Homo sapiens: one gene and its partners. The protein of the gene in region 1 interacts with the protein of each later gene in a pairwise test. Each region holds a gene or a part of one and is shown in the gene's direction. Other genes may lie near its edges. The genes, in order: MESD, COX14, CUTC, COL1A2, ARB2A, GTPBP3 and SMARCB1.

Region 1 (3,500 bases):
TGGGTATACATGGAGTGCAGATTTTAAGTATACAGTGCAAAGAGGGAGTATTTCTTTTCTTTTTTTTTTTTTCTTTTAAGACAGGGTCTCGTTCTGTCTCCCAGGCTGGAATGCAGTGGCATAATTATAGCTTACTGCAGCCCTGATCTCCTGGGCTCAAGTGATCCTCGTGTCTCAGCCTCCTGAGTAGCTAGGACTACAGGCACCTGCCGCCACACCTGACTAATTTTTAAATTTTTTTTAAGAGATGGGATCTCACTATGTTGCCCAGGCTGATCTCAAATTCCTGGGCTCAAGCAATTCTCCCACCTCAGCCTACTGAGTAGCTGGGACTACAGGTGTGCCTCACTGTAGCTGGGACTACAGGTGTGCATTGCCATACCTGGCTACTTTTAAATTTTTTTTTAGAGACAGTCTTACTGTGTTGCCTAGGCTGATGTCGAACTCCTGGCCTCAAGTGATCGTTTTACCTCAGCCTCCCAAAGTGCTGGGATTACAAGGTAAGCCACAGTGCCTGGCCTGCAATAAATTTTGATAAATGGATATATCTGTGTAATCTACACCCCTGTCAAAATGTAGAACATTTTCATCACCCCAGAAAAGTTCTCTTGTGTCCATTCTCAGTTAATCCTCCCTTGTCCCCCCTTCTACAGGCAACACTGTTCTAATTTCTGTTACCCTAGATTAGTTTTGCTCATTCTTGAATTTTAAATAAACGGAATTGCATAGTAAATCTTATTTTGTATCTGGCTTCTGTCACTTAACATTTTTGGGATTTGTTAGATGTATCAGTATTTGTTCTCTGTTGCTGTGAAGTATTTCATTGTGTGACCATACCAGAATGTGGCCATTTTTACAGCCTACCATGTTGGGTAGATTGTATGAGAGTTTAAAAGCTCTAGAAACCCATCACATGGGGGCGCTCTGTGATTGGTAACCTGGGTGTGGGTAGTATGTGCTGCCTGAAACTTAGACTATCTTGAAAGTTAAGAAGAGGAAGAAAACCCCTGGTTTTCCTTTTTATGTTGTAATTTAAGTCATATACATGCACCTGACATCATGCAGAAGTTTTTGCCTGTGCCAGTTGAAAAGCAAGATTCTGATGATAGGTTTGATGCTTTTCCCCTAATCTGATAGAAAGATGATGACATTGAAGAAGGAGATCTTCCAGAGCACAAGAGACCTTCAGCACCTGTCGACTTCTCAAAGATAGACCCAAGCAAGCCTGAAAGCATATTGAAAATGACGAAAAAAGGGAAGACTCTCATGATGTTTGTCACTGTATCAGGAAGCCCTACTGAGAAGGAGACAGAGGAAATTACGAGCCTCTGGCAGGGCAGCCTTTTCAATGCCAACTATGACGTCCAGAGGTAAAGCAGCAACAACCAGCTGAGAGACTCATAGGCTGTGCTCGGTCTTTTCTTTATTATTATTATTAATTATGATGATGATGATGATTTTTTTGAGACAGAGTTTTGCTCTTGTTGCCTAGGCTGGAGTGCAGCGGCGTGATCTCGGCTCACTGCAACCTCCGCCTCCCTGGTTCAAGCGATTCTCCTGCCTCAGCCTCCCGAGTAGCTGGAACTACAGGCGCCCGCCACCATGCCTGGCTAATTTTGTATTTTTAGTAGAGACAGGGTTTCACCATGTTGGCCAGGCTGGTCTTGAATTTCTGACTTCAGGTGATGCACCCGCCTCAGCCTCCCTAAGTGCTGGGATTACAGGCGTGAGCCACCACACCTGGCCCTGTGCTGGGGCTTTTCCTGAGGCTCTTAACAGGGTGTCCTTTCTGGCCGTATTTCCCAAGGGCCTCTGCCTTTCCTTTCTAGGTTTTCTTTTAAAATTATTTATCTATCTAGTTTGTTTTTTTTTTTTTTTTTTTTGAGACGGAGTCTCACTGTGTTGCCCAGGCTGGAGTGCAGTGGCGCAGTCTCAGCTCACTGCAAGCTCCGCCTTCCCGGTTCACGCCATTCTCCTGCCTCAGCCTCCCGAGTAGCTGGGACTACAGGCACCTGCCACCACGCCCAGCTAATTTTTTGTATTTTTAATAGAGACGGGGTTTCACCGTGTTAGCCAGGATGGTCTCAATCTCCTGACCTCGTGATCTGCCTGCCTCAGCCTCCCAAAGTGCTAGGATTACAGGTGTGAGCCACTGCACTCAGCCTATCTAGATTTTTTTAATGTAAAGAAGAGCGTTGCCGGGTGCAGTGACTCACTTCTGTAATCCCAGCACTTTGGGAGGCTGAGGTGGGCGGATCACGAAGTCAGGAGATCAAGATCATCCTGGCCAACGTGGGGAAACCCTGTCTCTACTAAAAATACAGAAAAATTAGCGGGGCATGGTGATGCACGCCTGTAATCCCAGCTACTCCAGAGGCTGAGGCAGGAGAATCGCTTGAACCTGGGAGGCAGAGGTTGCAGTGAGCCGAGATTGCGTCACTGCACTCCAGCCTGGCGGCAGAGCAAGACTCCATCTCGGGGAAGAAAAAAAAAAAAAAAGGGCATTTATTGTTGGTAAAAGCAGTTAAGTTTTTGTTTTTATTTTTTGAAGAGGCGAGGTCTCACTATGTTGCCCAGGCTGATCTTGAACTGCTGGCCTCAAGTGATCCTTGCACCTCAACCTCCCAAAGTGCTAGGATTACTGTCACTGGCAACCATGCCTAGTGTGTGTTTTTTTTTAATATCTCAGTTGATCCTAAAGTTTTATTTATCTTTGGATCTTTAGCTTTTATTTCATCTGAACAGAAGGGTGTATAGCTTAGTTTAGACTCTTTGAGGGACAAAGTTAATAGTTTGACAGCTTCAGCTAGAAGTTTCTGCTCAGTGGAAAGTGCTTTGTGTGTAGCTATGTTCACACATAGAGCTTGGACCATGCTGTTAACCGATAACTAATTTAGTATGAAGAGGCTCAGTTTTCACACTTGAGTATGGTCCTGAGGTACAATTTTAAGAAATCTGCTTCTTTTTCCTCAAAAACAGTTCTGAAATTTGGGGTCTGCAAATATTCTGGTTTAGGAAATATAAAAGCAATGACAAGAAATGGGAGGAGTACTTAGAGAGTGTCCGGCCAGCAAAATATTTTCAATTAGCTTAAATAGACACCTAGACAGAACAAATAAATGTCTTGGTGATGTCTGCTCCAGAAGGCCCACTGGTCTCTGTGGAGTGGTGGGAGCATTAGAAACTGAAGGGGGAACGCGTGGTGTAGTCCCTAAGGAACAGAAGAATCTTGCCCGCTGGCCACACTAGGGCTCCACCCAGGCCTCATTCTTTCCGCTTTGTTCCTTGGGACCTTTCGAGTGTGGACGAGCTGGGCAGCTTGCTGCTAAGCTCAAGGGCTAGGATTTTTGTCCAACAACCAAGTGTCCTCTTGAGTCCTTCATAGCCTCTTATCATGACCCACTCTAAGCCATTGGTTTTCCACCTTTATCAGCAGAAGTCTTTTGTCCCATAAAAGTGTAACTGGACACTCTAGAATATAAAACAGATACAGATCAGAT
Region 2 (2,859 bases), on another chromosome or scaffold:
ACGGAGTCTGGTTTTGTTGCCCAGGCTGGAGTGCAGTGGCGCGATCTCTGCTCACTGCGAGCTCCGCCTCCCGGGTTCATGCCATTCTCCTGCCTCAGCCTCCTGAGTAGCTGGGACTACAGGCACCCGCCACCATGCCCGGCTAATTTTTTTGTATTTTTACTAGAGACGGGGTTTCACCGTGTTAGCCAGGATGGTCTCGATCTCCTGACCTCGTGATCCACCCGCCTTGGCCTCCCAAAGTGCTGGGATTACAGGCTTGAGCCACCGCGCCCGGCCGAGCATCTTCATTTTAACGTGTTCAAGCCCAGCTCATGATCCTCCTTTTTTTTTTTTTGAGACAGGGTCTCCCTGTCACCCAGGCTGCAGTGTAATGGCATGATCTCGGCCCACTGCACCTCTACCTCCTGGGCTCAAGCGATCCTCCAACCTCAGCCTCTTGAGTAGCTGGGACTACAGGTGCATGCCACTACGCCCCACTAATTTTTGTATTTTTTGTAGAGACAGGGTTTCACCATGTTGCCCAGGCTGGTCTCAAACTCGTGGGCTCAACGATCCGTCTGTCTTTGCCTCCCAAAGTGCTGGCATTACAGGTGTGAGCCACTGCACCGGCCACGTGATCTTCTTGATGGACACTGTCACCACCCTGTATATACAGTGATACATACCTCTTCTCTTGTTTCTTATTTCTGTTAACAGTATCCCAGTCTACAAAGTTTCCTAACTTGGAGGTATTAATATTTTCAGCTTTGCCCTAATTCGCTCCATTGATAAATCCTTTTCTACTTCCAAAGTATCTTCTGCATCTGTTCTTTCCACTTCTACTGCTACCACTGCTTTAGCTCAGAATCTGAAGAGTTTTTTTTTTTTTTTTTGAGACAGAGTCTTGCTCTGTCCCCCATGCTGGAGTGCCGTGGCACTCTCTTGGCTCACTGCAACCTCTGCCTCCCAGGTTCAAGTGATTCTCTTGCCTCAGCCTCCTGAGTAGCTGGGGCTACAGGCATCCGCCACCACGCCTGGCTAATTTTTGTATTTTTAGTAGAGACAGGGTTTTGCCATGTTGGCCAGGCTGGTCTCGAACTCCTGACCTCAGGTGATCTGCCCGACTCAGCCTCCCAAACTGTTGGGATTATAGGCGTGAGCCACTGCGCCCGGCCTGAAGAGTTTTTGCTAATTGGATATTAGGGAAAACCACAGGATGGATTAAGACAAGAGAGGGAAGGTAAGGTTCTAGACAGCAGGATTATGTCTGTTAGTTGGTTTTATGTCACTTTTCTAGCCAAGCTGTACCATCCTGTTTTTGTTGGTTGGTGAATGCTTCCAGCTCTTTTCCTCCAGCCCTTGGAAGAGGTGGTCCTATAATTGTTAAGCATCTAGCTAGGGTGATGAGTAGGAATAGCAATAAGTGACAGGGAAGTTGAAGGCTGCAGGGCTCTTTGCAGGCGGCTTAGCGTTCAGCTCCATGGGTGTGTGTTTTGTTCACTATTGCATGCACAGCTTGGGGCCATTTCAAACCTCAGATTTCAAACCTGAACACAATCCTTTCTCATCTTGAACTTGTGTCACTTAGTATTCTTCCTCTGACCTTACTTAATATCACTTTCCATAGTGGGATTATATTTCAAAGAAGCTGTGTCTCAGCTCAGCTTGGGGTCCACACTCAAGACCTGCCTCAAAGGCAATGTTCAGCCCTTAGGGTTTACTCTGAGAAGTATTTACATGTCTGTACCCATGTCTGACCCCTCTAAACCAGCGAATCCTGAGCTTTACTTTCAATTTTTTTTTGTTTTTTGAGACAGGGTCTCACTCTGTCACCCAAGCTGTAGTGCAGTGGTACGATCTCAGCTCACTGTAGCCTCAACCTCCTGGGCTCAAGCAATCCTCCCACCTCAGCCTCCTGAGTAGCTGGGACTACAGCCATATGCCACCATGCGTGGCTAATTTAAAAAAAAATTTTTTTTGTGGGGACAGGGTCTCACTATGTTGCCCAGGCTGGTCTCAAACTCCTGGCCTCAAGTGATCCTCCTGACTCGGCCTCCCAAAGCATGGGATTACAAGTGTGAGCCACCATGCCCTGCCTAGGTTCTTGACTTTGTTGTTTGTGTGTATGCTTTGGTGTGTGTGTGTGCGTGGCCATGGTAAGGGGCGGGATTTTAAGTGTCTCTGCCTACAGTGCTGAGAGCCATTAAGTGGAGAGCAAGCTGCCAAAAACTAAAAATAGGGCCCTCTTAGGCCTCACTGGCAGGCTTATTGGGCCCAGTTCTCTCAAGGCTCCTCAGGACTGGGTCCAAAGGTCCTTGAGACATTCCCCTCTTGGCTTCCACCCTGGCACTCTTTTTCTGTCTCTTTTTTTTTTTTTTTGAGACGGTGTCTCACTCTGTTGCCCAGGTTGGAGTGCAATGATGCGATCTCGGCTCAACTGCAACCTCTGCCTCTGGGATTCAAGCAATTCTCCTGTCTCAGCCTCCGAGTAGCAGGGACGCAGGCATGCACCACCACGCTGGGCTAATTTTTTTTTTTTTTTTTTTGAGATGGAGTCTTGCTCTGTCACCAGGCTGGAGTGCAGTGGCACGATCTCAGCTCACTGCAGCCTCCGCCTCCGGGTTCAAGTGATTCTCCTGCCTCAGCCTCCTGAGTAGCTGGGACTACAGGCGCGCACTGCCATGCCCAGCTAATTTTTTGTATTTTTAGTAGAGACAGGGTTTCACCATGTTGGCCAGGATGGTCTCGATCTCTTGACCTCGTGATCCACCTGCCTCAGCCTCCCAGAGTGCTGGGATTACAGGCGTGAGCCACCATACCTGGCACCCCCCCTTTTTTTTTTTTTGAGATGGAGTCTCACTCCCCGTCATCCAGGCT
Region 3 (3,500 bases), on another chromosome or scaffold:
ACTTCCTGTTGCATCACATCAGGAGGACATAACATGTTGGTTTTTTTCTGTTTTTGTGATATTAAGATTGAACAGGGAGTTCAGGTATTGCCAGCCTAATCTATCCTTAAGGTTTTCTGTCAGCTTTTCACCTAATAAATTTAGCAACCCATATTTTAGTAGGGGTTGCAAAATGGTGACATTTATTTTTCACTTATGAACTAGAATAGTTCTGTAAAGAACTTTCCCTCATCCTCTGTTTGGTTATGCTGAAGTATGGTTTGTATAAGAAAGGCAGAATAAATGCTTGCTTATTTTCCCTTATTTATTATAATACTTTTTAGAATAATGAATTTGTTCTCTGTCTTCCCTTGAATTGTTTTGTCATTATGAATGTAGATTTAGATATATTTTGTGTGTTTTAATCCATTGTAGTTATTCTGCTTATTGATGAACAAAATGTTCTATCTTTGGCTAGTGAGAGCTTCTTCAAACTGGTTCCTGAGATCTTTTGATGTGACCTTGGTAGCCTAATAATTCTTTTGGTTTCAGCATTTTCTTATTCTTGAAATTATCTTGGTTTAGCTACTCAAAAGTAGCTTTGTGTTTTTTAAAGCTTAGAATAATAAAGACCCTTTTGGGAAATATTATGTTATTTTCTTATCAACAAAGACTCAGTATTCCACTATAGTCAGTTTTAAGAAACATCTTTATTCTATGTTACTTTCCTGTACATAGAGAGGCAACCCTATAATACAAAAATTTAAGAGAACTAGCTTAACTTTAATTAATTTTTAAATTTGAGTATGAGTAACACAATGTGGGCTGCAGAGTATAGCTGAGTTAAAAACAGAGTTTTACTCTAGCTTTATAATTTGATTTCTCTGAGATGATTTCTAAGACTGTTCTATATTTGGAAAAAATATATATAAACAGGTTGCTGTTTAATAACAGCTTATTTTTTAAAAATGTGTTGAGCAATGCTTTTATATTACAGGTGCTGATCGGATTGAATTATGTTCTGGTTTATCAGAGGGGGGAACTACACCCAGCATGGGTAAGTGTCCATTTTTCCCAGGTTTTCTGATTGGAGTTCATAGAGCCTGGAAGCAACTGATAATCAGTTTCGTTGGGGTCCTTTACTAATGTCATGTTAACTATGTTATGGATGTTGTATCAGAAATGTTTATGATTGTAAAAAAATCAAAGATTTGATCAAACATATTTCTTTCTCACATCAAAAAGTTGAAAGGTAGGTAGGTAATTGTTAATACCGGTTCAGCTGCTCTGTAGTAACATCAAGGATTAGGCTTTTATAAAATCTTTCCATGCTGGCATCCTTAGTATATTGAAATCCCCTCCTGGTCTTTGTGCTATTGTTGTCATATATTTTACTCATACATATATCAAAAACTCCATGCTGTATTGTTAGTTTTGTTTGAAGAGTCAATTATCTTTTGTTAAATAAGAGATTTAAATAATAAGAAAAAAATCATATATTTACCCACATGCAACTACCATTTCTGGTGTTCTTTATTCCTTTGTGTAGATCCCGTATTTCTGTCTGGTTTCATTTTCATTCTGCCTGAAGTACTTTCTTTAACTTTTTTTGTTAAAAAGTATGCTAGTGATTCATTCCTTCAGCTTTTATATGTCTAAAATAGCTTTTTCCTTCATTTTTGAAAGGTATTTTTGCTGGGTATAGAATTCTAGGTTGACAGGTTTTTTTTTTCTTTGAAGATGTTTTTCCATTGTCGTCTTGCTTGTATTGTTTCTGACAAAAAGCTATCATCCATATCTTTGTTTTTCTCTATGTAATATGTCTCTTTTTTCTACCTACTTTTAAGATTTTTTTATTATTGGTTTTGAACAATTTTCTTATGGTGTACCTGAGTATAGTTTTTTCATGTTTCTTGGACCTGTGCATTTATACTTCTCATCACATTTGGAAAATTTTCAGCTTGCAGCTTGTTCTCCACTCCCTCCTTTAGAGACTTAAGCTATTCTTACATTAGACTACTTGAAATTGTCCCAAAAGTCACTGATGAACTTCTCTATTTAAAAGAAAATCTCCTTTCTGTGTTTTCATTTTGCATAGTTGCTATTGTTTTGTCCTTGAGCTTACTGACCTTTTCTTCTGCACTATCTAATCTGCTATTAGTCTCTCCTGGTATGTTTTCATCTCATACATTGTAGTCTTCATCTGTAGAAATTTGAGTCTTTTTATGTCTCTGATGTCTCTTAACTTTTTTGAACATGTGGAATAAAGTTATGATAGCTGTTATAATGACCTTGTCTGCGAATTCTAACATCTATATCAGTTCTGGGTTTGTTTCATTTGATTTATCATCTAATAATATATCTTATTTTCCTGCCTTGTAATTTTTTATTGGATGCAAGACATTGTGAATTTTACTTTATTGGTTACTAGACATTTTTGAATTCCTACAAATGTTCCAAAACAGTTTGGTCCTTTTGGGTCTTGCTTTTAAGATTTGCTGGGCAAGTCTGGAGCAGTGGTTAATACAGAGCTAATTATTCCTTACTACTGAGTCAGGATTCTTCTGTGAACTCTACCCTGTGACCATGAATTTTGAAATTTTCCTGTCTGGCTGGTGGAATAGGCATTATTCACAGCTTGGTATGAATGACAGGCACATTATTTCTAATCCTTTTTATTGGTTCTGTCCCAGGCCTTGCGTAGTTTCTTTGCATGCATGCACCGGTCAGTACTCAGCTGAATATTAAAGGAGGTTCTCTGCAGACCTCCAGAGTTATCTGTCTTCCTTTCTTCTTTCATTCCTTCCTTTCCTTTCTTTTCTTTCCTTCTCCTTTTCTCTCTCTTTGCTTTCCTTCCTTCCTTTTTTTCTTTTGACAGGGTCTCACCTGTTGTCCAGGCTTGACTGAAGTGGTGTGACCATAGCTCCCTACAGCCTCAAACTCCTGGGCTCAAGCAATTGTCCTGCCTCAGCCTCTCAAGTAGCTAGGATTACAGGCATATGCCACCATGTCCAGCTACATTTGTTTGTTTGTTTGTTTGGTAGAGATGGAGTCTCACCATTTTACCCAGACTGGTCTTGAACTCCTTGCCTCAGGCAATCCACCCATCTCAGCCTCCCAAAGCACTGGGATTACAGGCATGAGCCACCGTACCAAGCCTATCTTTTTTAAAAAAAATCCTTTTTTTAAACCATTGAGATAGTCTTTGCTACTCCAGTGTTATCTTTCTGTCCTCCCTGTACTGTCTCCTATAAACTCTAGCTACTTCAGTCTTCCTGAACTCTAAGCTTTGTCTCCTTAACTCAGGGAATTGTTTTGGCTCCATGTGGGTCCCCCATCCCTGTGCTTTGGCCTAGAAACTCTCAAGGCAGTAAATTGGGTCAATCAGAATTGACTTACTAACTTCATTGTTTACCATTTTCAAGGATCATTGCCCTTCACTGCTTAATGTCCAGTGTCTTGCAAACCACTGTTTCATATATTTTGTCTGTTTTTTTATTATTATTATTATTATAGGTGGG
Region 4 (3,500 bases), on another chromosome or scaffold:
TAAGTCTTCTGGTTAAGGTTTCTGGGAAAAAAAAATAGCAAAGATGTTGATTTCTTGGAATCCTTTTACAGGTTCATAACAGAAAAATCTTCATTCCCTGTAGGCATTTAATTAAACCTAGTTGAGAAGTGTGTGGGATTCCTCAATTATGAACAAAACACGTATATTGGCTTTCTTTAAAAAAAAAAAAAAAGAAGAAAAAAGAAAAGGCAAAGTCCTTCGAAACTCAGAGTCCCATTCATTTATCATTAACTCCTATCATTCTACATAGTTCTGATTCCAATATGCCAGGGTACCAGTGGCATGACATTGTTTTTCCTCATAGAAATTTGCCATAGTCTCTCCTCCATTATTTGGTTGGTTACAGCCTCATAAAGGAAGACAGGAGTTGCTTCTTTCTGCAAGAAAGAAGGTTAAAAACTATAAATATTTCCCCCAAATGGCCAGGGTATTATTTTATTGCATCACATTGTTTGCATCTTAAGATCTAGAATCTTTGCTGCTCTCTTCCAGGCCCTTGGTGATTAACAGAAAGGAAATGACCTTGTACATTTGCTCATAGGGTATTTCTGGCCCTCCTGGTCCCCCTGGTCCTGCTGGGAAAGAAGGGCTTCGTGGTCCTCGTGGTGACCAAGGTCCAGTTGGCCGAACTGGAGAAGTAGGTGCAGTTGGTCCCCCTGGCTTCGCTGGTGAGAAGGGTCCCTCTGGAGAGGCTGGTACTGCTGTAAGTGATTTCCAACTCCTCTTTCTTAATACCTTATGCTGAATTAAAATAAAGCCCCTACACAAATCTTCAAGTGGCATCTATTTGTTGATGAGTATTGCAGGCTCTCAAGTAGAGCTCAGTTGAGCCAGGAAATCTGTCCAGCACACACTGAGGGGCTGTGGCTTCCAAGATGCTCAGAAAGCACAAAATCGGGAAGACAATAAATGAGGGAACTCAGTTTTATCACAAAGCCCTTAAAGCTATTGAAGGCACCTTACTGGTACCAGGATTAGAACAGAGTCCCATTGCTGTGGCCATCCTACTACATATTAATCAATCTCAGTAGGCTACCAATTTCTTAAACATACACTGTCCAGTATTAGTGCTACTCTGAAAGGTGCCCCTATTAGACCTTAGAGGCCAAAGTCAAAATTTGCTTCCTTTTGATATACTGATTTTACTGATTTCCTTTTTGTTTTTGTTTTTTGTTTTTGTTTTTGTTTTTTTGTTTTGGGATGGAGTTCCCCTCTGTTGCCCAGGCTGGAGTGCAGTGGCACGATCTCAGCTCACTGCGACTTCCGCCTCCCCAGTTTAAGTAATTATCTTGTCTCAGCCTCCCGAGTAGCTGGGACTACAGGCACACACCATCATGCCTAGCTAATTTTTGTATTTTTAGTAAAGACGGGGTTTCACCATATTGGTCAGGCTGGTCTCGATCTCCTGACCTCAGGTGATCCACCCACCTTGACCTCCTAAAGTGCTGGGATTACACATGTGAGCCACCCCACCCAGCCTGATTTCCTTTCCTTTGTGTATATACCCAGCAGTGTGATTGCTGGATCTTATGGTAGTTCTATTTTTAGTTTTTTGAGGAACCCCTCCTACTATGTACAACTATTATGTATCCATAACAATTTAAATTTTTTTATTTGTTTCCCTGCCTAGAGGCTATAAAAACTCTATTTCACCACCCCAAGTGTCTTTATAAATCTCAACCACATATTTTTAAATGTTGTGCCATTGGTCTCAAGGATGAATCAGATACAAAAGTATTCATGCCAAGATGTAAACTCACCGTCATCACTAGAGAAAAGATATCCAAGGATATGTCCTAGTAATAGGAGGTCATTAGCCTTTTTCTAAGCTGAAGACAGTTTATTCTCACAATCTTCAAGCCAACCTGTGTTATCACCTAGGGTCTTACCCATAATACTCAGTATTTTTTCTCTATTTAGGGACCTCCTGGCACTCCAGGTCCTCAGGGTCTTCTTGGTGCTCCTGGTATTCTGGGTCTCCCTGGCTCGAGAGGTGAACGTGGTCTACCAGGTGTTGCTGGTGCTGTGGTGAGTGCTTGACAGTATTCTGACTCCATTAACATAAGAAAAGATTTTAAAAGCTGCCACTTCAAATGTGACAGATTGATCACTGAATAACTTCACTTAAGATTTTTATTCATGGCATTTTCTTTATACAGATCACATGTCACTTATCTAAGAAGCTTTAATACCACCTTACTTAGACACACACTATAAAGACACAGCTTAAAATTATGCAGAATGATTTTTGTTCTTTCCACGCACTTAGGAATGATACAATCTCTAATTGCGTTTACTCCTCTGCAATATGAAATGCTGGCATCATTTATCCTGTAGGAAGAATGAAACTCTGGAAGTTCTGAATCGTTCCATTAAACCTTATACGTGACAACAACTAGAAACCATCTCATCTCCATAAAATATATCAACTTTTTGAATTCATTTCATTTGGGATACTGAATGACACGAGGCTCACTTTTTACAGAGCAACATCCCGTGATTACATAAAGCTGGCCATCTACATGTGGAGAAGGAGGGCAGAGATGATACTAATGATACTTCTTACCATTGTGTGACCCATTCACATTCAATTTACCTTCTTCCTTCAAACTAGAATCTCCTGAGTAGGGTTGTTTTGGAGGGGAAGGTTAGCATTCCATCGAATAAGGGGAATGTCATTTTATCTTCTCTGCCTGTTTAGGGTGAACCTGGTCCTCTTGGCATTGCCGGCCCTCCTGGGGCCCGTGGTCCTCCTGGTGCTGTGGGTAGTCCTGGAGTCAACGGTGCTCCTGGTGAAGCTGGTCGTGATGTGAGTCCAACACTTGGTTTGTAAAATAAAACTGAGCAGGATTTCATTGTGTGAAACTTTATGTCCTGAGCTGAGGTTCTCTTCTTCCAAATTTCTGAACAAGATGGTCAGCTTCTCCATAGTATCTACACCTAGTACTGAAAATATGAAAATTGCTTAGGCCAAAGAATGGGCTTTTCAATAGCACACTGCAAAACTGGGCCCAAGTATTTAAAACATCTCTAAAAAATATCTAGGTTGGCAGGTTTTTATCCCTAGTTTTAACAGTCTGAAAGAGGGTTCGTTACTGAGCACTGGAAGTGATGAAGACAGAGTAGCTACAACATAGGGGCTGGTAGGCAGCAGAGCCTCACCAACAGCCTTAATTTGTGTGGTGTCTTCACAGGGCAACCCTGGGAACGATGGTCCCCCAGGTCGCGATGGTCAACCCGGACACAAGGTCAGTACACTTTTCATCTTTCTCTAATTCAAAAGTGATTAAAATGCAACCCAGATTGATGCTAAGCTTCATTTTGCCTTTGGTAGGGAGAGCGCGGTTACCCTGGCAATATTGGTCCCGTTGGTGCTGCAGGTGCACCTGGTCCTCATGGCCCCGTGGGTCCTGCTGGCAAACATGGAAACCGTGGTGAAACTGTAAGTTTGTGAATACCAGTCCCTCAGTGCAGCATTC
Region 5 (3,500 bases), on another chromosome or scaffold:
TTGTCACATTAATTAAATTGGCAATCTGAAATATCTAAAGGATAAAATATTTTCTAAATAGTTTGGGTGTTTAAATAGAAGCATCCATTGTTGAAATCTAAATGATAACAAATCTTCAATTGATTTATATAGTGGTGATTTAAAAATAGAATCATTTCTCATCTGTTGATGCCTAAGGGAAACATTGACATTGTGCCTTTATGATATTGAACAGATGAGTCATGTAATTTTCAGTTACTTAGACAAATACTGCTTCTTTGATGATATATAAATGCCTTTTTTAAAATACTTATTTACATGGAACATATCAAATTTCAGAGTCTTATTTCAAATTAAGTAGGCACGATAATTTTTCAATCTATGATTTCTAAAAATTGAAGTTTAAAGTTCTGCTCAAATAAGCCAGATATGAAAATATTATTTTTTTGATTAAGTAATAAGATAATAGTCTTACAATTCTGGTGACTGTAAATTTTGTTCAAAGAGTTTACCTTTATTTGAGATTTATTCATTATACAAAGATGATGCCATGTTATTTCAGCTTATTAAAGTCCCACTCTTTTACCTTGAGTGAAGTTTTTGAATTTGAAATTTTTCATATTATCATTAAAATGTAGTATATCACTATTTTCATCTCTACTAATTTTAAGATTCTATTTTGGTCTTGCTAATTTTAACTCCTGAGTATGAGAGGGTGGTGTGTGTGTGTGTGTGTGTGTGTGTGTGTGTGTGTGTGTGTATGTGTATGTGTATGTGTGTATGTGTGTTTAAAGTTCAATTCACTCAGAGAAGGCAAGGAAGAAACATGACAGGAGACCACTTACTCACGGTACAGAATCTAGTAGGGAGGCAATTTTCTTTTTGGCCTATGGTGACCTTTTTTGACTATGTTCCTTACACCAGAGACAGTGTACTGAATGCCTCTATTTCACCCTGTTTAGCAGAGTGCAACAGTGTTCTTTAACTTACTTTTGGTGGGAGGAGAAGTTATAGCTGAAATTTGAGAAGGGCGTGAAAAGTTGTAAGAGGCACAAGGAAGAGGGGTAGGAACTTCCTTCAAATGTGATTTTAATAACTAGTCAAGTGTGTCCAACTGTAGAAAATCACCAAGTGACAATCTGTCTACCTGACAGTGATCACAATGAATTACAAGACTTTTGAATAGCTATACAGATTAGAATAAAGCAGGACCAAATAAAATATCTTTTGTTGGTAAAACTTTTGACTTAGAGCTAAGAAACTTTAAAAAAAATTCTCTTTTGCTTTGATGTAGAAAGTTTAAATTACAGAATGTGTAAAGTGTTTTATAAGCTTTTTGTGAAAGAAGCATTATTCTAAAAGCTTTATTTGAACATCTGTTGAAGAATGGGTGGTGGTTTGTAAATCAGTTTGCTATATATTATTATATAGTTTCCATATATGTAAGATGACTGTATCTTAATTAATAGTCCTATCATTAAAATCAGAACTTCAGTGATCTTGAAAATTTCCAAACTAAATAATCGTTTTAGACAATAATATCATCTGATGGAGGAAAAAATAGAAAACAATTCCAAAGAAGTTTGTAAGTAGTTTGTGAAATCAACTGTTTAAAAAAACCAACCATGTGCAGTAATGCAGCATATTTTAAAATAAGATAATTGAGTCTGTGCTATTACTGGTTTACTATTACTGCTGTCAATTTTTTAAAATCATCTTATGGTTGGTTTGGCAAAAAATTTAAAATTTAAACTTCAAGTAGAAGATTCTACAGTTACTGTCTTGAAAAACTATATATACTACCTATTTTAAGTAAGGATGAGATTTTATAAGTTTTATTTTCTATTAAATAGATTTTCTAATAAATAGATTTTGTGAGCTATTTTCTGTAGCTCTTATGTTTTTATTATAATATCATACATCTTTTAAATATGACCTTATAGTATTTTACAAGGACATAATTGGAACCTCACAACACATAACTGAATAGAAAAGACAAGATATATAATAGCTTCAAAAATTTGTGTTACCCATGCTTGTCAATGGTTATTGTTTATCCCTCTCTATATTTTCTCATGGTTAGCTTATTCCATTAGACATAATATAAATATCAAACGTTTTCTTAATTATAACCACAGAAATGTTTGCCAGGCTAGAAAGAAATGAGACAGGAAAACATGTTTTACAAATTTAAAAAAAAAAAAGCCTTAATAGCTCAACAAGCTGTATTTTTTAACTTTGGAACCTTGCTTATTTCCTGATTATAGTTTTTAATAAAGAGAATTTTTATGGTAGGTTGAAAAATGAAAGAAATTTTAAGATTAAAGACTTGCTTCCATACATTATAGTAAGACAGTGGCTTATTTTGCTACATGATTTTTCTGGCCTCCTGTGAGAAACAAAGTGAATAAAATTCAAGGTACACAAGTAGATGTTATGTCTTTATAATAATGTAGGTATGGATGGTTTTGTAATGTTAAATCAGATTTATTCTTTTTTAACTGCTTATTCTTTTTAATTGTTCAGACAAATAAAAAATGCTCTTGAAAGGGCCATTGTAAAGAAAAATATACAAAAAAATGTAGTTTGAATTGTAAACTTTGATTTCAGAGGTTGTTTTCTCAAAACAGATAGTATAAATATTAATATAATTTGAAAGTTTACTTGAAAATAAATTATTTGCTAATTTATTTCAGTCATTTTTGGGTTCTGAGATATCTGAATTAGTTTTTTAATTTAAGCTTTATAATCTTTATGTTGCAATTATATTTTTTGTTCTTATAAATAATAAAAGCTTATTTATATACACAATAAAGGCAAACAATTTTAAATGACTTTCTTTTGAAAAAAATAAAATCATTATCTTGCCTAAAGGAGTATTTTAATGAATATGCAACTATATAAAAATTGCTTAGACTGAAATTTTAAGAACTTTTTTGAAAATTGAAATGGATTATAAGATTTAAATTATGCTACCTTCTTTCATTTCAAAACAGGAAGGATATGGAGTAATAGTACTAAATCCCAATGAAAACTATATTGAAGTAGAAAAGCCGAAGATACACGTACAGTCATCATCTGATAGTTCAGATGAACCAGCAGAAAAACGGGAAAGAAAAGATAAAGTTTCTAAAGAAACAAAGAAGCGACGTGATTTCTATGAGAAGTATCGTAACCCCCAAAGAGAAAAAGAAATGATGCAATTGTATATCAGAGTGAGTGAGATCACTACTTTCCTTTACTATTTTCTTTACCTTGTATATATTTTATTATATGTAGATTGTTTTGTTTTTCTTCAAGAATATTAATTTTTTTATTTGTCATCATTTATTTCCCATAGTCGTCTACTTGGATTAAATGGGTTTTTAAATTCAGAATTACAAAACGCATCATTCTTATTTCAGTGTGACATTTTATAGAAGTCACAAATGCAAATTCTGTTTCCTTTTGTGTCATATACTACCTCAAGAAAAATTTTCTAAAATAATTTTATTGTGATGGATGCAGAAGGCAGAAAACTT
Region 6 (2,679 bases), on another chromosome or scaffold:
TGTGTCTGGTCCTTCTTGCTCTGCCCCGCCACTCATGGTCGCCCCACTCCAGTGCTGTACCCGGCCCCTTTTGCTCTGTCCCAGCCCCTGTGCTGTGCCCTGTCCCTCTTGCTCTGCTCTTCCCCCTGCACAGTGCTCTGCCCCTCTTGCTCTGCCCCGCCCTCCTGTGCTGTGCCCCGCCCCTCCTGCCCTGCCCTACTCACTGCACTGTGCCCAGCCCCTCCTGCTCTGCCCCGCTCCCGCACCGTGACCGCTCCTCTTGCTCTGCCCTTCCCCCTGCACTGTGCCCCGCCCCTCTTGCTCTGCCCCACCCCCTGTGCTCGGCTTGGGCCCCCAACATTCTGCCGGTCCCCTGGTACTCTACTCCTCCCTCCCGACCTCACGCTTCGCAGCTCCCCCAGTGCTCTGCCTGGCCCCTCTAACTGTCCCTCCACCCAGTGCCTTCAATTGCTCAACCTGGGATCCCCGCTCAGTTGACCTTGCTCCCGCAGGCTAGAGCAGGCTGACCTCATTCTGGCCATGCTGGATGCTTCTGACCTGGCCTCTCCCTCCAGTTGCAACTTCCTGGCCACCGTCGTAGCCTCTGTGGGAGCCCAGAGCCCCAGTGACAGCAGCCAGCGCCTCCTCCTGGTGCTGAACAAGTCGGACCTGCTGTCCCCGGAGGGCCCAGGTCCCGGTCCTGACCTGCCCCCGCACCTGCTGCTGTCCTGTCTGACGGGAGAGGGGCTGGACGGCCTCCTGGAGGCGCTGAGGAAGGAGCTAGCTGCAGTGTGAGCCCCCTCCCACTCCCAGCCTCCCCTGACCCACAGTTTAAGTGTGGGTCCCTCAACTTCAATTTCTGAACCTACAAAATGGGTACAACCATTTCCCCTTCAAGGGATGGTTGTAAAAGGTCGGGAGAGACCATGTCTCTTGTCTCTTCCAGGTGTGGGGACCCGTCCACAGATCCCCCGCTGCTGACCCGAGCAAGGCACCAGCACCACCTCCAGGGTTGCCTGGATGCCCTCGGCCACTACAAGCAGTCAAAAGACCTGGCCCTGGCGGCAGAGGCGCTGCGGGTGGCCCGGGGTCACCTGACCCGGCTCACAGGTGGAGGGGGTACCGAGGAGATCCTGGACATCATCTTCCAGGACTTCTGTGTGGGCAAGTGACGGGATCCAGGGAAGTCGCACCCAAGCTGCGTGGAGACCCAGGAGCCTCGGGGGATCTGGAAACAGTTTAGGCCAATTGGGATTCTCATTCGCCTGGGAAAGAACTTGATTCTCAAATAGTGAAGCAACACAGCTGAGAGGTAGTGAGATCCCTGCAGGGACTCCCTGGAGATTCAGGCCCTGGAATGGGGCTGAATGGAGGTCCCGTTCGACCCTTGATGCTGGGGCATCCGGGTTGGGATGGAGATAGGAGGATCTCAGTATATTTGTTTCGTAGTTTTTTATTTATTTTGCAAATACCAAAGGAATGTAAAAAAAACTCAGGTGATCTAGAAGTGTTTATTTTCTTCCCTTCCCTTCCCTTCCCTTTCCTTTTCCCTTTCCCTTTCCCCTTCCCCTTCCCCTTCCCCTTCCCCTACCCTTCCCTCCTCTGTCTATTGCCCAGGCTGGAGTGCAGTGGTGCGACCTTGGCTCACTGCAACCTCCATCTCCGGGGCTCAAGCGCTTCTCCTGCCTCAGCCTCCTGAGTAGCTGGGATTACAGGCATGTGCCAGCATGCCCGGCTAATTTTTTTCTTTTTTTGAGACAGAGTCTCGCTCTGTCACCCAGGCTGGAGTTCAGTGGTGCGACCTCGGCTTACTGCAACCTCCACCTCCCGGGTTCAAGTGATTCTCCTGCCTCAGCCTCTTGAGTAGCTGGGACTACAGGCGCACACCACCACGCCAGGCTAATTTTTGTATTTTTAGTAGAGACAAGGTTTCACCATGTTGACCAGGCTGGTCTTGAACTCCTTGACCTCAGGTAATCTGCCTACCTTGGCCTCCCAAAGTGCTGGGATCACAGGCGTGAGCTATCACACCTGGCCCCAGAAGTGTTTCAACATGGAAATTTTCCTTAGCCCTTCTGTGGTTGTCATGGCTTAATGTGTGTCTTTCCAGAACTTTGAATGTTTGCATACTTGTGGATGTACCTTTCAAATATGTTTGTCTTGTGTATCATATATAAATGGTATTGTGTTCATTGCTCTACAAATTGTCATTTCTTTTTAAAAAAAAAACAGAATTATGGAGATGGGGGGTCTCACTATGTTGCCCAGGCTGGTCTTGAGCTCTTGGACTCAAGCCATCCTGCTGTCTTGGCCTCCCAAAGTGCTGGGATTACAGGTGTGAGCCACGGTGCCTGGCCTCATTCCTTTTTTAGTCTTTAGTCTTCTTTTTTTTTTTTTTTTTTTTTGATGGGGTTTCACTGTGTTAGCCAGGCTGGTCTTGATCTCCTGACCTTGTGATCTGCCCACCTGTGGCCTCCCAAAGTGTGTGTGTGTGTGTGTGTGTGTGTGTGTGTGTGTGTGTGTGTGTGACAGAGTCTTGCTCTGTTGCCCAGACTGAAGTGCAGTGGTGTGATCTCAGCTCACTGCAGCCTCTGCCTCCTGAGCTCAAGCCATTCTCGTGCCTCAGCCTCCCGAGCAGCTGGGATCATAGGTGTACCCTACCACACCTGGCTAACTTTTGTATTTTTAGTAGAGATGGGT
Region 7 (3,500 bases), on another chromosome or scaffold:
TGCCATTAACAGACAGCTGTATTTACCAAGCCGGAGTCATGGAGCTTTGAGGACCCTAACAGATCCCCAAGTCCAGCACCTTGATTTTATATTCAGGAAACCTGGGTCCCAAGAGGGTGAAGGCTGGTTCAGAGGAAAGCCAGGAAGGCAAGCCCAGTTTCCTAAGTTCTGAAGGGGCTTTGGGGGGCATCTAGGAGACTCAGAGCCCTGCAGGGCCTGCAAGGTAGTCATAGGGGGGAGTATTGTCAATTTCTTTTAAAAAACCTAATGGAAACTCTACATTTACCATGATACTGGATGATACTGACACACAAGCCAAATAACATAGAGGGGTCTGTGCCCTCTATGTGGAAAGCGAGTGACTTGCTGTGTCTGCTCTTCTCTCAGCGTTCAGTAGCCCTGGTTGTTGATTACAGTCACTGCTGAAAATGGAGAAACATTTTATTTAATACTATGCCTGGGTCTCACACCTATAATCCTAGCACTTTGGGAGGCCCAGGCAGGAGAATCACTTGAACCCAGGAGTTTAAGACCAGCCTGGGCAACATAGTGAGACTCTTGTCTCTACAGATTTTTATTTTTATTTTTTTTAATTAGGCCGGGTATGTGGCTCACACCCGTAATCCCAGCACTTTGGGAGGCCGAGGTGGGCAGATCGCTTGAGCCCAGGAGTTTGAGACCAGCCTGGGCAACATGGTGAAACTCCGTCTCTACAAAAAATACAAAAATTAGCCGGTTGTGGTGGCAAGCAACTATAGTCCCAGCTACTCAGGAGGCTGAGGCAGGAGGATCGCTTGAGCCGAGGAGTTCGAGGCTGCAGTGAGCTATGATCGATCGCACCACTGCAATCGAGCCTGGGTGACAGAGCGAGACCCTGTCTCAAAAATAATAATAAAAATTAAAAATAAATTTAAAAATGCAAAATATATACTATGTTGCGTAGATAAAATGGGAAACATAATAGAAGTGGTCCTTCATGGGGGTGAAGTTCAGAGTTGCTGAGCATTTGGCAGATGAGTAAAGGGTACCCAGAAAATGGGAAGTGATCCCAGGTTACAGATGGAGCCAGCACCTGGCACCCAGTCTATTGGCCATCCCCTGCAATGTGACTCCGAAGTGATCATACTTGAAAAGTCAACGAGACAATAGGGTACCCTCATAAAAACTTTAGGTCTAGATTTATTTTCCTTAAGGAAGTCACACTTTCAGTATTTGCTACAAGCAAACTGAAGCCATTGTTTGAGTCAGTGATGATTTATATAGCAGTCTGGTGATTGCCTTGTAAACCTTTTGGAAAATTCCTTTGGTATCCCTGGTTTGGGTTTTGTTACTAAACAAAGCAACACAGGCCATGGGGGAAATTATCTGGCATCTGTCTAAAATTAAAAGACCTTTTTGGTGTTTATTACATTGTAAAGATATCAAAGTCTTGTCCTTAAGATAAAAGAAGGTCAAGGAGGCCTTGCATTTCTGGAAAGTGCCAGAGATCCTTAGTCCAAAATCAAAATCACCACGAACTTCTTGCTAAGCTCTGGGGGCCTCCCACTCAGGCATCTGCCCAGGCCTTTCGGAACTTGGTTCTGTTGTCAGGATGCACATATGCAGGCCAGATGTGCACTGCTGGTGAACCCTTCATATCAGCAGAATGTGTTTTAATGCTGCCGAAAGCGTGGCGCCTGGGGGCCACCTCAAGGCCTGTTTGTCTGTTGCTTGATGCAGTCTGCGCCAGGACCCTCCCCTTCCCTGTGGTGCTGCGACCCTTATAATGAGCCTTCTTGCTTTACTCATAGGTGGGAAACTACCTCCGTATGTTCCGAGGTTCTCTGTACAAGAGATACCCCTCACTCTGGAGGCGACTAGCCACTGTGGAAGAGAGGAAGAAAATAGTTGCATCGTCACATGGTAAAAAAACAAAACCTAACACTAAGGGTGCGTCTTCACGAGGGTTTGTAAACCTGTTTCAAAACCACTCGCTTATGTCATGAAGATAAAACGTTTTCACTCCAGAGTGTCTTCACTGCAGCCTTGGCCTTAGTCGGGCAGGGAGCATCCCGGGGTGGGCCGCCCTGTGAGCACTCCAGGCAAGGAAGTGGCTCCAGGGAGCCATTGGTGGTCCACTGTCAGTTATTTCCAGCAGGGCCATTGGGTATGTGAGCGGGCCGGGGCCAGGACACTAGCAGGTGCTGTGAAGACATGTTGGTCTCAAAACGTTTTAGGAATGCTGCGATGCTCTGCCATCTGTCGTGGGTGTGTCGCCATAATCATCTTCCATGCAGCCCAAGTGGCGGGTGGTGGTCCCAGCTCCCACTCCCCTCTGGGGCTTTCACTGCTTGCTTCCTGGAGCACATCCATCCCATAGCACTTCATCCTGGCAGCCAGTGTGCTAGAGCCCATGTGCATGTCCCTGCTCCTGGTGGCCTGCGTGTGCCTGGGGCTTGCTAGGTACACTAGTGAAACTAGTGGGCTTTGGGTCACGGCAGCTCTGTGCAGGGTGAAAGGGTGCTCTTCAGACACTCTGGGGGCTCTGTGGGAGACACTCCCATGGAGACATTTGGGTGTGGACACAGCATGTCCTTGGGCAGGTGGCAAAACTGCTTCCCACGTGGCAATGGCGCCTTGTAGAGAGCTGCCCTGGGCCTGGGTGTGTCTGTGAGCATGTGCGCGATGCTTCGTAGTCTGCCCTGTTTGTTTGTGTCTGTAGGTGCTGCTGTGGTTTTGTCCACTGCGGGAAAGTAGTGGTTCTTTTAATGCAGGAGCCGGAGCTTCTTTTTGATCTGCTGCTATGACATTTCCACTCACTTGCTTAAAACAGTTTCCTTTTTGTTCCCCCTCCTCCCCTAGCAGAGCATCAGTCGCTAACACAGTGAGTCCCCAGCTTTGCTTCCCCCTCCGCAAGTCCCTGGGCTAAGTCTTGGGAGATACCTTCCCCATAAGCGATTGATTTCTCCAGGAGAAGCCAGACTGGGCCCACAGACAGGTAGCTCTTGACGGAGATTCCCCGGAAGAGCTAGGGGTCGAGCTGCCTAGAATCTGTCCTGCTTCCCAGGCAGCACGTGTGGACCGGCTCGGGGATAGAAATTCGTGTTTGGTGTGAAGCAGCTCTTTCCAACTCTCTGGGCTCTTGTTTTAAAAGAAAAGTATTCTTCATCTTCCATTCCATCTCCCCACCTTGCATCGTGTTGTGGATTGTGGTGGTGTCAGACCTCTTCCCACTGGGGTGTTACTCTGGGAGCTTTCTTTTCCCCTGAGTGAGGACCAAGAGAATATGTTCTGGAGTCGAGTGTCCCCGCTGGTCGTGCTGTATTGTAGTTGCTGGTGCTGCCCTGAGCACTTCCCTCTGCCCCGAGCCAGTGCTCCTGGGGCAGATTAGTCCAAATCAGTCCCATTGGAGGCTCTACCCAGCAGGACTTGTAAGTAAAGCACTCAGTCCAGATTGCCCTTTTGGAAGAGGCCAGCATTCAGCAGTAGTAAGTTTGACACCTTGCTTTTCCCACCTCCCG

Evidence for each region.
Region 2: the proteins of MESD (region 1) and COX14 interact in binary tests that used the Homo sapiens proteins (3 or more experiments, as listed by UniProt).
Region 3: the proteins of MESD (region 1) and CUTC interact in binary tests that used the Homo sapiens proteins (3 or more experiments, as listed by UniProt).
Region 4: the proteins of MESD (region 1) and COL1A2 interact in binary tests that used the Homo sapiens proteins (3 or more experiments, as listed by UniProt).
Region 5: the proteins of MESD (region 1) and ARB2A interact in binary tests that used the Homo sapiens proteins (3 or more experiments, as listed by UniProt).
Region 6: the proteins of MESD (region 1) and GTPBP3 interact in binary tests that used the Homo sapiens proteins (3 or more experiments, as listed by UniProt).
Region 7: the proteins of MESD (region 1) and SMARCB1 interact in binary tests that used the Homo sapiens proteins (3 or more experiments, as listed by UniProt).

What each region holds. Positions count from the first base shown.
Region 1 is NC_000015.10:80,979,820-80,983,319, reverse strand, and holds part of MESD (LRP chaperone MESD precursor), read left to right. Parts: intron 1-1,137; coding exon 1,138-1,370; intron 1,371-3,500. UniProt on the Homo sapiens protein: Chaperone specifically assisting the folding of beta-propeller/EGF modules within the family of low-density lipoprotein receptors (LDLRs).
Region 2 is NC_000012.12:50,115,236-50,118,094, forward strand, and holds part of COX14 (cytochrome c oxidase assembly protein COX14), read left to right. Parts: intron 1-2,859. UniProt on the Homo sapiens protein: Core component of the MITRAC (mitochondrial translation regulation assembly intermediate of cytochrome c oxidase complex) complex, that regulates cytochrome c oxidase assembly.
Region 3 is NC_000010.11:99,738,734-99,742,233, forward strand, and holds part of CUTC (copper homeostasis protein cutC homolog), read left to right. Parts: intron 1-976; coding exon 977-1,036; intron 1,037-3,500. UniProt on the Homo sapiens protein: May play a role in copper homeostasis. Can bind one Cu(1+) per subunit.
Region 4 is NC_000007.14:94,422,395-94,425,894, forward strand, and holds part of COL1A2 (collagen alpha-2(I) chain precursor), read left to right. Parts: intron 1-562; coding exon 563-724; intron 725-1,941; coding exon 1,942-2,049; intron 2,050-2,722; coding exon 2,723-2,830; intron 2,831-3,215; coding exon 3,216-3,269; intron 3,270-3,355; coding exon 3,356-3,463; intron 3,464-3,500. UniProt on the Homo sapiens protein: Type I collagen is a member of group I collagen (fibrillar forming collagen).
Region 5 is NC_000005.10:93,881,164-93,884,663, reverse strand, and holds part of ARB2A (cotranscriptional regulator ARB2A isoform 1 precursor), read left to right. Parts: intron 1-2,975; coding exon 2,976-3,194; intron 3,195-3,500. UniProt on the Homo sapiens protein: Plays a role in the regulation of alternative splicing, by interacting with AGO2 and CHD7. Seems to be required for stabilizing protein-protein interactions at the chromatin-spliceosome interface. May have hydrolase activity.
Region 6 is NC_000019.10:17,340,553-17,343,231, forward strand, and holds the end of GTPBP3 (5-taurinomethyluridine-[tRNA] synthase subunit GTPB3, mitochondrial), read left to right. Parts: intron 1-491; coding exon 492-770; intron 771-925; coding exon 926-1,151; 3' UTR 1,152-2,179; downstream 2,180-2,679. UniProt on the Homo sapiens protein: GTPase component of the GTPBP3-MTO1 complex that catalyzes the 5-taurinomethyluridine (taum(5)U) modification at the 34th wobble position (U34) of mitochondrial tRNAs (mt-tRNAs), which plays a role in mt-tRNA decoding and mitochondrial translation.
Region 7 is NC_000022.11:23,789,966-23,793,465, forward strand, and holds part of SMARCB1 (SWI/SNF-related matrix-associated actin-dependent regulator of chromatin subfamily B member 1), read left to right. Parts: intron 1-1,790; coding exon 1,791-1,929; intron 1,930-3,500.